Homo sapiens: one gene and its partner. The protein of the gene in region 2 interacts with the protein of the main gene of each other region in a pairwise test. Each region holds a gene or a part of one and is shown on either strand. Other genes may lie near its edges.

Region 1 (3,500 bases), on a different chromosome or scaffold from region 2:
TACATTCCCCAGCCAGAAGACTTAGAATCCATGCTTGAGCCAAAGCCTCCATTAAAACCACTGCCCGACCCTGCATTGGATGCTGATCCCCAACCAATTGCTGCACCAGAATTAGAGCCACTATAAGAGTTATTTCCAGAACCGAAGGCCTGGTTTGGCTCCCTCTGCATGTTGCCTTGGTTTTGGTTATTACCCGATGGGCCTGACTGGTTCTGCTGGCTGGCTAACATGCCCATCATACCCCAACTGCTCTGTAGTGCTGCCTGGGCGGCAGCCATCATGGCTGGATTAATGCTGAACGCACCAAAGTTCATCCCACCACCCATATTACTACCTTGATTGTTTCCCAAACCAGCTCCACCCCCTCTGCTATTACCAAATCCACCCTGATTCCCAAAGCCACCTGGATTACCACCAAATCTTCCACTTCTTTCTAACTGTCTATTGCTATTGTGCTTAGGTTCGGCATTGGATATATGAACGCTGATTCCTTTAATGATCAAGTCCTCTCCACAAAGAGACTGCGCAATCTATAAGAAATAAGGGATGTAAACAAAGAAGATTAAACCACTGATTCATATATTTAAAGTAGCAACAAAACTTAGATTACAAGCATTAATTTATCTAAAGCCAGAGGAAAAATAAGCAATGAACACTCATTTCATTTAAACCCCCAATACAGCTTTTAGTTTTATTAACAGCAGCAGTGATATTTCAGTCGATTTTCAAAAGACATAGGCTGGGCATGGTGGCTCATGCCTGTAATCCTAGCGCTTTGGGAGGCCAAGGTGGGAGGACTGTGTGAGGCCAATAGTTCAAGACTAGCCTGGCAGCCTAGACAACACAGGGAGACCCCACCTCTATCAAAAAAAACCACAAAAAAGCCACATTAGCTGGGCGTAGTGGCATGCATCTGTCCTAGCTACTTGGGAGGCTGAAGCTGGAGGATCCTCCCCCTGGAGGCTGAGCCCAGGAGTTCTAGGGTGTAGTGAGCTATGATTACACCACTGTGTTCCACCAGCCTGGGCAACAGAGTGAGACCCTGTCTCAAAATAATAATTTAAAAAATGGGCCGGGAGCAGGAGCAGTGGCTCACGCCTGTAATCCCAGCACTTTGGGAGGCTGAGGGGGGTGGATCACCTGAGGTCAGGAGTTCAAGACCAGCCAGATCAAAACAGTGAAACCCCGTTATCTACTAAAGATACAAAAAACTGGCCAGGCGTGGTGGCTCATGCCTGTAATCCCAGCACTTTGGGAGGCTGAGATGGGCAGATCACCTGAGGTCAGGAGTTCGAGACCAGCCTGGCCAACATGGTGAAACCCTGTCTCTACTAAAAGCACAAAAAAATCAGCCAGGCGTGGTGGCAGGCACCTGTAATCCCAGCTACTCAGGAGGCTGAGCCAAGACAATCGCTTGAACCCATGAGGTGGAGGATGCAGCGAGCCAAGATCGCGCCATCACACTCCAGCCCGGGCAACAAGAGCAAAACTCTGTCTCAAAAAAAAAAAAAAAGTATATAACATTCCCAAATGCCACATACTGAAAATTATCTAAAGGCATATTTACTTTTAGATTTCTTAAAATGTTGTATTTGTGATATCAGATACAGGTATCACAAACATCTAGGCCCATACACCCTACGTCTTACAAGGTCAGAAAACTTAGCTAAGAATAGCAATTAGCTGCATGGGCAATGTTCAAGAGAAATTACCTAATTACCTGGGACATATTTTTTTTTTTGAGACAGAGTCTCACTCTGTCACTGGGCTGGAATGCAGTGGTGTGATCTCAGTTCACTGCCACCTCCGCCTCCTGGGTTCAAGCGATTCCCCTGCCTCAGGCTCCAGAGTAGCTGGGACCACAGGCGTGCACCACCACACCGAGCTATTTTTTTTTTTTTTTGTATTTTAATAGAGACGGGGTTTCACCATGTTGGCCAGGATGGTCTTGATCTCCTGACCTCGTGATCCACCCGCCTCGGCCTCCAAAGTGCTGGGATTGTAAGCATGAGCCACCACGCCCGGCCGGGACATATCGTTAAGGAGAAAAATACCTGATCATCTGCAAATGTAACAAAGGCAAAGGCCCTGAATGGCTTGGGGATGAAGACATCCATCACATCCCCGTACTGAGAGAAGAACTCCCGCAGCTCATCCTCAGTCATGTCCTCTGTACAGCGCCCCACAAACACTTTTCTGCTTCTCAAAGGCTCATCTTGGCTTTGCTGATCAAATCAAAAGGAAGAAAAAAACTCAGAAATATGTTATGAACAATGAAAAAAACATTAAGGTAAGGGATATAACAAAATCATTCGCCTTGGATAGCAGTGAACCATTAAAAAGTAGACGTACCCTTAATTTTTTCCATCAGCATTTCTTTTTCTTGTAAGGCTTCAGTGAAGAGTAACGTTTTAAGTTACAAAAGTACACAGTCATGCATCACATAATGATGGATATAAATACATCATGAGCCATTACACAATTTCATCATCGTGGCCAGGTGTGGTGGCTGACACCTGTAATCCCAGCACTTTGAGAGGCCGAGGCGGGTGGATCACTTGAGGTCAGGAGTTCAAACCAGCCTGGTCAACATGGTGAAACCCCACCTCTACTAATACAAAAATCAGCCGGGTGTGGTGGCAGGCACCTGTAATCCCAGCATCTTGGGAGGCTGAGGTAGGAGAATCACTTGAACCCGGAAGAGGAGGTTGCAGTGAGCCAAGATTGCACCATTGCACTCCAGCCTGAGCAATAAGAGTGAAACTCCATCTCAAAAAAAAAAAAAAAGGGCCAGGTGCGGTGGCTCACACCTGTAATCCCAGCACTTTGGGAGCCCGAGATGGGCGGATCATGAAGTCAGGAGATCAAGACCATCCTGGCTAACACGGTGAAACCCCATCTCTACTAAAAATACAAAAAATTAGCCAGGCGTGTTGGTGGGCACCTGTAGTCCCAGCTACTCGGCAGGCTGAGGCAGGAGAACGACGTGAACCCGGGAGGCAGAGCTTGCAGTGAGCTGAGATTGCACCACTGCACTCCAGCCCGGATGACAGAGTGAGACTCTCTCTCTCAAAAAAAAAAAGTCGTTGTGCAAACATCATATAAACCCAGATAGCATAGCCTACCCCACATCTAGGCTAGATGGTATAGCCTATTGCTCCCAGGCCACAAACTTTCAAGTTACTGTACTCAACACTGTAGGCGACTATAACATGATGGTAAGTATTTGTGTATCTAAACATAGAAAGGGTACAGTAAAAACAGTGTTATAATCCTATGGGACCACTGCTGTACACGAGGTCTGCTGCTGACTGATCAACTTTGCCATGTGATACATGACTGTGTTTGGATTTGAGAAAATTAATAAATAAGCAATCTCTTGGCAAAGATGATGATGTTCCAAATAAGCCAATGTTATTTGTTTGCTTGGAAAAAGTTAGGTCTTTATAACAATTAATGTATGTATTCTGATTCTCTTTATGTTTTAACATATAACTATG
Region 2 (3,500 bases):
CTATGGCTCCTCCTGTTTACCTGCCGCCTGCAGGCCTGAGCTCATGAATAGCCAAGCAAAAGCCTTTGCCCTGAAAACTAGAGTTTCACAGATGTCACCTATGTATCTACTGCAGACTACGGCAGACGTCACCTTGAGAAGGAATGACACGTGCTTCAGAACGTTCTCTCCACTCTTCCACCCACGATACGACCTTACTGGCTAGGACCGTGTGCCAGGTGTGGACCTTTCTGGACCCCAGCTCCTCTTCCCCTCTCTTGCCCCTTTGCTGGGGCCCCGACACCCTCCCATCTAAGGCTGTGCCCTGCCCCAGGACTGACCTGTCCTTTGAGATTAGGAAGCCCTGGCTGAACAGGTCAAGTGGCTCAGGGTCAGCCTACCCTCAGGGAGCAGACTCTACAGGGGCAAGCTGCAGGAACCACCCTGCTCGTGAGTTCAAAGCTCGTCTCACAGCTTACCCTCTCCAAACCTCGGCCTCCTCTCTCCTCAAATGGGTGCTGTGAAGACTGAAGAAAATCGTGCCTGGCCACCTGTAAATGCTGTGAGTAACAGGCACTGCCATGGCTCCAGGATCATTGCTGTCATTATTACCCTACCAGTCCTGTGGGGAGGGCAGGTGCGGGTTCTACCATCTCATCTTTGTTCCATAGCAAGCCCCCCAATCTTGCATTCCAGCTCCAGTAACTCAATCCTTACCTAAGTCGGGTGACTGATTGAGTCTCTGCCCAATTTTTCTGCTCAGTTCCCGGGCCCTCTGAGACCAGAGCCCCTCCATCGCTCCCTGCCTTGCAAGCCACCCAGCAGTGTGCCGGGCCATCTCGCCAGCTGGCTGCTGCACAGCCAGGTTCTGCTGGCCGGAGACCACCAGCAGCTTGAAAGCAGCCAGGATGTGAGTATTTAGACCAGGGAAAGCAGCAAAGCAGACTTTTATTTTTGTTTCTTTTTCTTTATTTTCCCCCTAGGCAGCTGGTTTGCCAGTATCTCCTCAGTCATCCCAGAGCCAGAGCCCCACTCGTTGGGCCCAAGTGGCAGCTCTGTGCCCAGGCCCGGCCACCCCCTAGAGAGCCTGTGTCTAGGAGGCAGCTGGCCTGCTGGCCCCTGCACACTGCAGAGCTGGGCACCTCCAGAGCCCATCCTCCACACTGCCCTGCCTGCACCCACACTGGCGGGCCTCACTTGACCCACACAGGGACTGCAACCATAAAAGCAGCAGAGCCACTTGCCCCCAACCCCGCCCCGCCGAGCCTGGGGCCTCTCCAGGGTCAGGGCCCACTCCAACAAAGAGCATTCTCAAATGCCACCAGGGACACCTTCCAGACAAAGCTGATCCAGTAGCATGCTGGCTTTGAATCCAGGTCAAATACCCAAGATGCACCTTTTTTCCTATTTTGTTTTCTTATTGTTTATTTATTTATTTTTGAAACAGGGTCTCGCTGTCACCCAAGCTGAAGTGCAGTGGTGTGATCAGGGCTCACTGCAGCCTCAACCTCCTAGGTTCAAGTGATCCTCCCACCTCAGCCTCCCAAGTAGCTGGGACTACAGGCCCATGCACCACCACCACACTGGATAATTTTTGTATTTTCTGTAGAGACAGGGTTTCACCATGTTGCCCAGGCTGGTCTCAAACTCCTGGGTTCAAGTGATCCTCCCGCCTTGGCCTCCCTAAGTGCTGGGATTACAGGCATGAGCCCCAGGCCCAGCCCAGAATGCACTCTTAAATGTTGCTGGAGTCAGAAATTTTGTTCCGAGTAAATCACCAAGGGGAGTCTGGGGTCCTGGCTGCAGAAATGTCATTTCTGCGTCAAAAACAACCAGCAGCCTCTGTAAGAAGCCCTCCCTGCAAAACCCCAGTAAGCATTCTTGAAATGGTGAGGGTGGGCCCTCCACCCTGACCCACCCATAAAGCCGGGCTGGGGCGGGCGAGCACACACTTGGGGAACCCACCCTGGAAGAACCAAGGCAGGCACCGGAAGCCCCCAGGGAGGGTTTTCTGATGCTGCTCTCAATGGGCTCATCCTCAGCTCTCAGGGAAAAGTCAAGAGTCCTGAGTGACATAGCCCCCCAGGGTCCCAGAAAGCTAAGGATTCATGAACACGCGCTGACTGTCAGAACTGAAAAGGCCTTAGAAATGCTGGACGATGGGCTGGGCGCAGTGGCTCACGCCTGTAATCCCAGCACTTCGGGAGGCTGAGGCAGGCGGATCACCTGAGGTCAAGAGTTCGAGATCAGCCTGGCCAACATGGCAAAACCCCATCTCTACTAAAAATACAAAAATTAGCTGGGTGTGGTGGCATGCACCTGTAATCCCAGTAATAATCCCAGCTACTCAGGAGGCTGAGACAGGAGAATCGCTTGAACCAAGCAGTGGAGACTGCAGTGAGCTGAGATCGTGCCACTGCACTCCAGCCTGGGCGACAGACTGAGACTCTGTCGAGAAGGGGGGGGGAGGGGAGGGGAGGGGAGGGGAGGGGAGAAGAGAAGAGAAGAGAAGAGAAGAGAAGAGAAGAGAAGAGAAGAGAAGAGAAGAGAAGAGAAGAGAAGAGATGAGATCCTGGATGATTAACACTCCCAGAAAAAGCCAAATGTAGCATCCATTCATCTCTGCCTGCTGTCCAAACCACACACAAGTGACGGTAAGGGAATAAAATGGGGGCTAAATCCACAAAGACAAAGAGACCACAGAGGAAAAGATAAATGAAGGATCTCATGGTGACAACTAAAGACAGTGTACGTGACAACCCCAGCACAAAGAGGGTGCCTAACGCATGGCACTTAACCACTATCACCAAATTTTAATAGCGCAGCTCAAATTTCAGTTTTAGTGTCCTTGAAACCCAAGGAAAAAAAATATGGATCTTTATTTTTCTATGTAGAAACTCCCACTTACAAGTCTGGGCTCAGTGTTTTGTTGCTACAGTGATATTTTTCAACCATGTCTTTTTAAATGTTTTCATTATGAATCCCCAAAATATAGTTTGTCGGTAAACTTGAGGTCAAACAGCAGACTGATTTTAAGATGTGTTCAATGAAGCAAAAATGCCAGTATTTGCCTTCTTAGAGGGACAAAATGGTCAAAACTCAGTAAGAGTGGAGAAAAGAAAGGGAAAGAATAAATGAAAGCAGAAGACAAGGAGAAAAGAGGTGAAAATAGGTGGGCTAAGGAGTAAAGGAACTGGGAGAAAGGACCGAAGGTGTCAGGAGAGCTTGGTGAATAACAGGCATTTCCTTCCACCTGCAGGACGCTAAAACCACACTGGATTCGCTGCATTATCCTTCAATGTCTCCTCCCCTGACTCCCTCATCACTCACCCAATTATCTGCTACCCCGACTCCTCCCTTGCCCCTGGTCCACCCCAAAGGCTATGGCCCAGGGAGCATGGGGAGGGTCCCCCAGTCCCACCCTCAAGGCACTGTGGGAGCTCAGGCCCTGACTCAGGACCCCTGAGCTCTGATCCTGCATCCTCCCTGTCTCAGTTAAGGGACCTGAGGGACGCTTTTCA

Evidence for each region. Proteins that work in one complex are often made in the same cells at the same time.
Region 1: the proteins of ASB13 (region 2) and TARDBP interact in binary tests that used the Homo sapiens proteins (3 or more experiments, as listed by UniProt).

Annotation. Positions count from the first base shown.
Region 1 is NC_000001.11:11,019,154-11,022,653, reverse strand, and holds part of TARDBP (TAR DNA-binding protein 43), read right to left. Parts: intron 2,226-3,500; coding exon 2,055-2,225; intron 531-2,054; coding exon 1-530. UniProt on the Homo sapiens protein: RNA-binding protein that is involved in various steps of RNA biogenesis and processing.
Region 2 is NC_000010.11:5,660,096-5,663,595, forward strand, and holds part of ASB13 (ankyrin repeat and SOCS box protein 13), read right to left. Parts: intron 1-3,500. UniProt on the Homo sapiens protein: May be a substrate-recognition component of a SCF-like ECS (Elongin-Cullin-SOCS-box protein) E3 ubiquitin-protein ligase complex which mediates the ubiquitination and subsequent proteasomal degradation of target proteins.